2 separate regions of the Homo sapiens genome follow, and region 2 is linked to region 1. Evidence: fine-mapped expression QTL. A gene starts in region 1. The other region holds a variant in brackets. All regions are shown on one strand. Distances are from middle to middle. Region 1 holds the start of ASB14 (ankyrin repeat and SOCS box containing 14). Region 2 has its middle 5.7 kb from the start of APPL1.

Region 1 (4,399 bases):
TCAAAGTCAGTTACTCAATTATGCAATTTAAGGTTTTAATCATAAGGTTAATATAACAGATAATCTAATAAGGCTAATTTCTTTACAAAACTTTAAATATTTAAAGATTATTTTAAAAACTAATCCTAAATTGAACACAAAAGTATAGGAATAGTGTGTGGCTAAGAGCACAGACTTTAGAATCAGACTGCCTTGCTCTTCACTTACTAGTTCTGTGACCTTGGGTAAGCCACTTAACTTTTCTGTGCCTCACTTTCCTCCTCTCTAAGTAGGGATAATAATAGGACCTACCTCATAGAGAGGTAATGAGAATTAGAATTTAAAAGTTAGTATTTATGAAGTGCTTAAAATAACATGACACATAGTGATCACTCCATGGTTTGTTACATTTTAAAAATACTATATAGGTTTGATGTACTTCATTGTCTCTATTTAGTTATGAAATCTCTTGGGGTTAAAAGACATTTTTCTAGTTTTACATCCAGCAGGCAAATAGAGATTACCATCCCAAGTAAACTGGGTTATCACCCCTGAAAAAATGATGGTTACTGCCTCAGGAGACCAAGGTTGCTGATTGGCCAGCGAGCGTGTGAGCAGGTGTGCCATATCCAGGACGATTCTTCTTACACCCCACACAGGGTCCCACTGGTCCTTTTTCAGTGTTGTCCAACAAAACTCTGAATCTACACTTTCAGAAGCCTTGTTCAAGTTTATGTAATTCCTCCTTTTGATTTGAGTAGATCAAAGACTGGACCCCATCCCCACCTACCCTACTAAGGTTGAAGATAACTAACTTTCTATGTGTCCCGGTTGGATTTATGCATTTCTTCAATTCCCAAAGACAAGATGTATTAGTTTTTCTCTAGCCCTTCATATCCTCCTTTCTTTCTTCTGATTTCCAGTCTGTATCACCTCACCCAGATTTGCTGCTAACCTCCTTCAGATATTTTTATTGCCTAATTAAATTCTGAATTATTTCCAGATTATTCCTGTCTAGTTAGGCATAATATCTTACAGATATTTAATTGACAGCTCCTTGGATTCTGACCCTCCTGTTTTTGTCACAACACTAGAGTTAAGCTAATGACAAGTGTCAGCTGTTGAATACAACACTTAATACTATATTGCCGATGAGAAAACCATTACCTCTCATCCTTAGGTGCATGTTGTGCTGTTCCTGGCTTATAAATATCCTGCAAACTCTGTTGAATGATGAGCTGGGTGTCAAAGTCTTCATCTATGTCTTCATCGCTGGTGTAATTATCCATGTGAAACGTGGACAGGTTTACTTTAAAGTCAGAGTGAATTAAAAGTATTTTTCCAGTTGTGAAGAGATCAACTGCTTAAAATTACAAATGAAATTCAGAAATCTAGAAAATTGGTAGGATTAACAATGAAAAATATACAAAATTTAGGAAACAAAATATTCACTAAAAAATTTCTATAAACTTAAAAAAGTTTTGTGGACTGCCACAGATTCAACAAAAATTAGAAGTTTCCATGAGTAGCCATTGACTTAAAGCTTATTCAGGAAAAACCACCTTTCAAATAAGACTTCGGTTAGTGCCACTCTAACACTGACAACACTCTGATCTGTTCAACTTGGCTGTGAGTCTTTCACAGTGATTGTAGCACTCATCCAAAATAATATCTTTCCTACACACAGTGTGATGCTGAAAATAATATTTTACTTAATATACATTAAAAATAAACATGTTATAGGAACAAATGTATTCTCATAATTACAACATGGATACAGCAGTAGTAAAAACAAATGTATCTTACTAGGCAATATCTAAATGGTTTTAAAAGAAAAATGTCAGTTTTAGCATAGAATACATTTGGTCACATTTCAAAGACTTTTTACCTTTTGTTTTATCCTCTAGGACAGCAGTGAAGTTTTCACTGTTAAGGACTAACACATGTAAGCCTCAGAATTTTCATTTATATTTAGGCTCTCCTCTCCCCTGTAGTGACCATTCCATTAATAGCTTTACTATAAATACTTCATCATAAGACAGTTTGGCACATTCTCCTTGTTTTTTACATGTGGTTTAGCTCTTTTTGGAAACATGATCTCTTTTCTTCAGTGCTACATTCATCAAATTTAAAGGATTAAATATTTTATTCCTGGAATAAAATGCTTTTGCAGGGGGTTGGCCATGCAAAGAGAATTCATGCACATAGCCACTGCAAACCACAATCAATTTTTCACTTAAGAGAACCCAAACATTTTGCTCTGACCCAATTATCCAAAGTGACTGTCCCAATGTACTAGATTCACTAGGTAGCTGTGACTACATTTTCCTTGGGTTACAGAACTGTGGCCTTCAGTGTCCTTGGAATCCTAAGGGAAGAATTCACTCTACACAAGATAAAATTTTGATCAAAATTCTGTTTTGTTGAAATATTTTTAAATTGTTAATATACACTAAAAAAAGCAAAGGGACCACTTGACATTTCAAATTAAATATGAAGCAAATGCCGAGAAGCACACTGTCACTGCAGGTGTAGAAGTTCGGACTGCCCTCAAGCCATCCTACTGCCTTTGCAGGCCAACTTCGCAGCTTTGAGTTTCCTTTCCTAGTCACAAGGATGCAGTGAGAAATGGAACCGATGTCTTAGAGGTAAGAAATAAAGAGGTATAGTTGGGTAACTTTTAATATTTTCCATATTTATAATTTCTTAATTTATGTATTTGAAATATTTATGTATAATTACTTTAGGTAGGAGAGTGGAAAGTAAACTATACTGAAGCTGAAGGAATGACTTAACATTTGTGAAGGAGATAATTCCTGATATTTGTTAAATGTTACCGTTTAACCCCCAAATCTATTTTTCACATACAATCAAACTTCAAAAAGTTCTCCTCAGAAAGGAGAACAATGCAATGAGTGTTTGCAAAGATCATTTAAAAGAATAACACCAAAACACTTGGTTTTATAATGTATATATTTTAAGTAGGACAGGTTTTTTTTTTTTTAAACTTTTGGATGTTTTATAAATTTGTCCAATTTAGTCATCCAACTGACAAAGCAAAGCAACCCCGCGCTTGATCCAGTGCCGAGTAGGTTGGTCTGTTTTTAACAACATTGCAATGACAAAGTTAGTAGAATGTCCCGTAGTGGAAAGAGTTCCTTTACGTTCACTTGTCTTGTAGAGGGGACAGACATAGGCATCCGACTTTATAATCCGAGATTTTTGAGCTTGAAAAAAAAAAAGAAATATATTCACTTGATAAAGGGAAAAACAGCCATTGGTACGAAAAGAACTATTTATCTTGTAATAAAATGGCCAGAACTAAATCTAAGATCATAATTGTGATATATGAAGGTTTTACAGCATATATATTTTTTTACAGTACATATAGTATTACGGTTGTGAAACAAGGCAAGTATTTCTTTTCTTTTCTTTTTTTTTTTTTTTTTGGAGACTGAGTCTCACTCTGTCACCTAGGCTGGAGTACAGTGGCACAATCTCGGCTCACTGCAACCTCTGCCTCCCAGGTTCAAGCGATTCTCTTGTCTCAGCCTCCTGAGTAGGTGGGACTACAGGTGCCTGCCACCATGCCTTGCTAATTTTTGTATTTTTAGTAGAGACGGGGTTTCACTATGTTGGCCAGGCTGGTCTTGAACCCCTGACCTCGTGATCTGCCCGCCTCAGCCTCCCAAAGTGCTGGGATTACAGGCGTGAGCCACTGCGCCCAGCCCAAGGCAAGTATTTCGTATGGTGCATGATTCTAGGTGTGGAAGACAGGAATAGACTTTAAAGTTCTGACCGCTTAGCAGGCATGAGAAAACTCAAGAGGATTTGGGAGGGGAGAATGAGAAGGGAGGGAAGAAGGAATAAAATACAGTATAGGTAGTGGGGGAGACTCAAAAGAAGAAATACAACTGCTTAGAGCTCTAATCCAAGAAACCCACACATTAGAAGAAGCTGACGTTTCTATTTGTTTTTAGCAGGTAAATAATAAGAAAAACATGTCAACTCTTACCAATTCATGAAAAGAAACTATATACAATCCCCAAAAAGCCAGATATAAGATATTAAGAGTCTTTCCAAACTAAGGTCACGTTTCTCATAGTTATAACTGAACCACATTCGTAATGAGAATATTTGATAGGTTGGATGGTGATTCTGGGTGATCAGTAAATATTTTAAGAAATTGTTGTTATTTAAGAATTAAAAAGTTAGGGAAGAGAAAACAAAAGAATGAGACTTTTTTTTCCAGACTTGTAGAAAGATGATGATGGCAGAAGCAGGGGAGGAGCAAGCAGTTTCCTAAATGGGGCAAAATTGGCCCCCACCCCATGTGGCTAGCAACATCTATGCCTTGGGGGACCTGGCTGGCTCCTAGGCCTAGCAGTTTCTTATAGCCAGAAAATGCTAGTCACTAGCG
Region 2 (4,399 bases), 71 kb before region 1:
CTTAAGTTTAATGAGATCCCATTTGTCAATTTTTGCTTTTGTTGCAATTGCTTTTGGCATTTTCATCATGAAATCTTTGCCTAATCCTATGTCCACAACGGTATTGCCTAGGTTTTCTTCCAGGGTTTTTGTAATTTTGGGTTTTACATTTAAGTCTTCAATCCATCTTTAATTGATTTTTGTATATGGCGTAAAAAAGGGTCCAGTTTCAATCTTCGACATATGGCTTGCCAGATAGTCCAGCACCATTTATTAAACAGGGAGTCCTTTCCCTATTGCTCGTTTTTGTCAGCTTTGTTGAAGATCAGATGGTTGCAGGTGTGCAGCCTTATTTCTGCGCTCTCTACTCTGTTCCATTGGTCTATGTACCTATTTTTGTACCAATACCATGCTGTTTTGGTTACTGTAGCCCTGTAGCAGAGCATGAAGTCATTTTTTATGACTTTTTTAAAGCATTGTCTTAACACATTGCTTTTTGTCCTGTTTATAGTGAATGTGATTTAGCTAAATCACTAATGTAGTCTTTTCCCTTTAAATCAAAGGATCTTGTAAATGATTGAGTTTACTTAAGACAAAGTTAATTTGCCATTTGTTTATTTATTTATTTATTTTTCTGAGACAGATTCTCACTCTGTCGCCCAGGGTGGAGTGCAGCGGTGCGATCTTGGCTCACCGCAACCTCTGCCCCCCAGGCTCAAGTGATTCTCCTGCTTCAGCCTCCCAAGTAGCTGGGATTACAGGCGTGCACCACCACTGCCCATCTAATTTTTGTATTTTTAGTGGAGACAGGGTTTCATCATATTGGCCAGGCTAGTCTTGAACTCCTGACCTCAAATGATCCACCCACCTTGGCCTCCCAAAGTGCTGGGATTACAGGCATGAGCCACCATGCCTGGCCACCCACAATTTATTATATAGTATATCACCAATTCTCCAGTTTCCCCAACACTTGTTTCAAATTGCTGCCTTTATTAAAGGTGTTTTTGTCCAAAATTAGGGTAAGAGCCAAAGTCCTCATAGTGGGCACAAGGCTTTGCCTGACGTGGCCTCCTCTCCCTTTCTTTACACCTCAGGCTTTCCCCTGGCTTGCTCTTCTCCTGTCATCTTGGGCTCTGCGCAATTCTTGAACCAGGCCAGGCCACTCTTACATTAGGGGTGACGGCTTCTGCCCTGATGGTCTCTCCTTCTGGAATGTTTGCTCCCTAGATATCCCCATGGCTCATTCCAGCCACTCCAAGTTTTTGTTCAGGTGTTACTTTCTCAATGAAGCCCATTCTGAAGAACCTGTTTAAAATTGCAGCTGCCCCGGCTCTGTTTTCCCTAATTTTTTTTTTTTTTTGAGACAAGGCCTTGCTCTGTCACCCATGCTGGAGTGCAGCCTGTACTCCATGGCTCAATGCAGCCTCCAACTCTCCAGCTCAAGCGATCCTCCCACCTCAGCCTCCCAAGTAGCTAGGACCATAGGTACACACCACCATACCCAGCCAATTAAAAACTTTTTTTTTGTTAAGATGGGTTCTTGTCATGTTGCTCAGGCTGGTCTTGAACTCCTGGGCTCAAGCCATCCTCCCACCTCAGCCTCCCAAAGTGCTGGGATTACAAGCATGAGCTGCTGTGCCTGGCCTTCCCTACTCTATTTTCTATAGCACTTATGACATTCTAACATACTATTCTTTATTTTACTATATAAGATAAGGTTTGCCCAGGCTGGAGTACAGGGGTGCAATCATAGCTCACTACAGCCTTGTAGCTGTAATATGCTATACTTCTTATATATCTATTTATTTATTTTGAGATGGAGTCGTGCTCTGTCACCCAGGCTGGAGTGCAGTGGCACAATCTCGGCTCACTGCAAACTCTGCCTCCCGGGTTCAAGCGATTCTCCTGCCTCAGCCTCCCGAGCAGCTGGGACTACAGTCACGTGCCACCATGCCCAGCTAATTTTTGTATTTTTAGTAGAGATGGGGTTTCGCCATATTGTCAAGGCTGGTCTTGAACTCCTGATCTCGTGATCCACCCGCCTTGGCCTCCCAAAGTGCTGGGATTATAGGCATGAGCCACTGCTCCCGG[C/T]CAATATGCTATACTTCTAATACTACTTACTATGTTTATTTTTTATTGTCTTTCTCCCCACCATATCTACTAACCTGTAGCTCCACAATGACAGATATTTTTGTTTTGTTCATTATTTAATAAATATTTGTTGAATGAAGACAGCTGTTCCCTGAGGTAGTCTGAATCCTAAATAATTGGTGCCATCTAGTGTTCTTGGAAGCACGTGTGAATTATCCCTGAGAGTCTTATTTGTATTAGCCATTGGATAAATAGTACTGGTATAATCAATTCTGCTACTCTGTTTTTCACTGCCCTCTATGGCTCTGAAAATATTAAAATGTTTTCAATGATTAAACAGGCACAGGACATATTAATTTCCCTAAAAGCATTTTTTTGAGACAGGGTCTCGCTATCACCAGGCTGGAGTACAGCGGCAAGATCACGGCTCACTGCAGCCTTGACCTCCTGGGCTTAAGCAATCCTCCCACCTCAGCCTCCCGAGTAACTGGGACTACAGGCATGTGCCACCACACCTGGCTAATTTTTAAATTTTTTGTAGAGACACGGTCTCACTATGTTGCACAGGTTAGTCTCAAATTCCTGGGCTCAAGCGATCCTCCCACCTCAGCCTCCCAAAATTTTGGGATTACAGCTGTGAGCCACCGCCCCCAGCCTATGAGCAATTTTTTCCCCAATGATTTGACTGTTCCTTCCAGAATTCCCATGTGGGGTAAGTGTCATGAAAATCTTTTAACTTTGGGGCACCTCTACCCACTCACCACCCGCCAAACAAAAAACAAAACAAAAAACAAAACAAAAACTCCTAAAAACCTCAAAATGGCAATAATCTTGGCTATTTTGGTAATTGTTTTGGTACACTTTTCCTCCAGAATTTCAAAGTACATATTTATTGATTTTGAAATTTTGGTTTTGGCCTCAAAAGCCCCCAAATCAAAGTGATAAAACATTAGCAAGAGTAACTAATGTTATTTAAAATAGCATCAGGATTCTCTAAGGTAATGAGCCCAATCTTCTGATTTAAAAAATATTAGTTTTTAAAAAAATATGATAGAGACAAAAAAGCTTCCTTAAATGTATTAAAATATTTTAATATTTAATAGTTGATAATGAAAAAGATAATTTTTACTGAATGCTTATTGCGCTAGGAGCTACTCTAAAAGCTCATTAATCATCTTAACAATACTATTAATGTAAGTTCTCTAGTATTAAGCTCCATTTTTCAGATGGCAGAATGGAGAAACAGAGAAGTTAAATAACCTTACTTAAGTCACAGAGCTACTAAACAGTGGAGCCAGAATTTAAATCACAGCCCAAGCTTATTAGCTCATAACCATGTTCTCATCTACCTCTCCACAGAAGGGCTATGATGCTATTTTGTGTTAAAGTTCTTGGCCTGCTCAGACAAATTAATTAATGTGTTCTTCTAAAAAGGAATCAAGGCAACCATAGATAAACAAAAGCATATACAATTTTCCTAGAAGTTTTTTTTTTTCTTTTTACCATCAAGAAAGTTGAAGCTGCAGAATTGTCCCACATTCTAAGGATGCTGTGGCAATGAGTAAAAGTGACATCAAGGTCAAGGTCAAAGGCAGAAGCTAGTTTGCAGTGGCACAATGAAGAACCAACCAGTTGGTCCTTAGTGCCCTCCCACCTCTTTTTGCAACCCATTCCTCAGAACTTTTTGTTTTACCCTCCAATTGTCCAAAGCTTCCCCCTACTCTGCTACTGGCTCTAATGTTTTAAAATAGATTAAATGACTGAAGTTCCCAAATTATCAATTTTCTTGAAATCTGCTCTTTCCTGAATCTGCTTTATCTCAGCTGGTATTAAGAAAATAATGAATTATCTGTTAAAGTTAGTCCTATTAAGGAGTGATTTACTAGGTAACAACCAGAATTTTTTGCATTATACATTACACTCTTTAAAAGGAGTATGAATTTCCCAGAATTTTAGATTGATGGAGTCTTTTAGAGAATATTTGTGAGTAGGTGGTTTCCAGCTCGTTAGCCTGGAAATCATGTCCTCACCATCCTTAGCTGGAATCTAGGATTCCTTTTCTAAATGTTTGCTTGACTCTTTATTTTTTGTTAATTTTTGTTTTAATTTAGACTGAGTCTCGCTTTGTCACCCAGGTTGGAGTGCAGTGGTGTGATTTCGGCTCACTGCAACCTCCGCCTCCCAAGTTCAAGCGATTCTCCTGCCTCAGCCTCCCGAGTAGCTGGGATAATAGGAACCTGCCACCACATCCAGCTAATTTTTGCAGAGACGGGGTTTCACTATGTTGCCCAGCCTGGTCTTGAACTCTTGACCTCAGGTGATCCACCCG

The links. PIP is the estimated chance that this variant, and not a neighbour inherited with it, causes the effect. A credible set is the group of variants that fine-mapping cannot tell apart.
Region 2: its variant is the best candidate, but not a certain one, in a credible set for the expression of ASB14 in skeletal muscle (GTEx, PIP 0.63).

What each region holds. Positions count from the first base shown.
Region 1 is chr3:57,290,766-57,295,164 of GRCh38, forward strand. It overlaps ASB14 (ankyrin repeat and SOCS box containing 14), which reads right to left and starts at 1,920. Exons shown (of 11, transcript NM_001142733.3): 1 at 1,868-1,920; 2 at 1,147-1,339. The coding sequence starts at 1,268. DNAH12 (dynein axonemal heavy chain 12) reads right to left here. Exons shown (of 74, transcript NM_001366028.2): 74 at 2,935-3,206. The coding sequence ends at 3,016. LOC124909384 (a long non-coding RNA gene) reads left to right here and starts at 2,026. Exons shown (of 2, transcript XR_007095923.1): 1 at 2,026-2,627.
Region 2 is chr3:57,219,833-57,224,231 of GRCh38, forward strand. It overlaps a transcript of HESX1 not described here. Among named protein-coding and RNA genes, the nearest start is that of APPL1, 5.7 kb to the right of the region's middle. The variant C/T (reference allele first, on the strand shown) is at 2,071.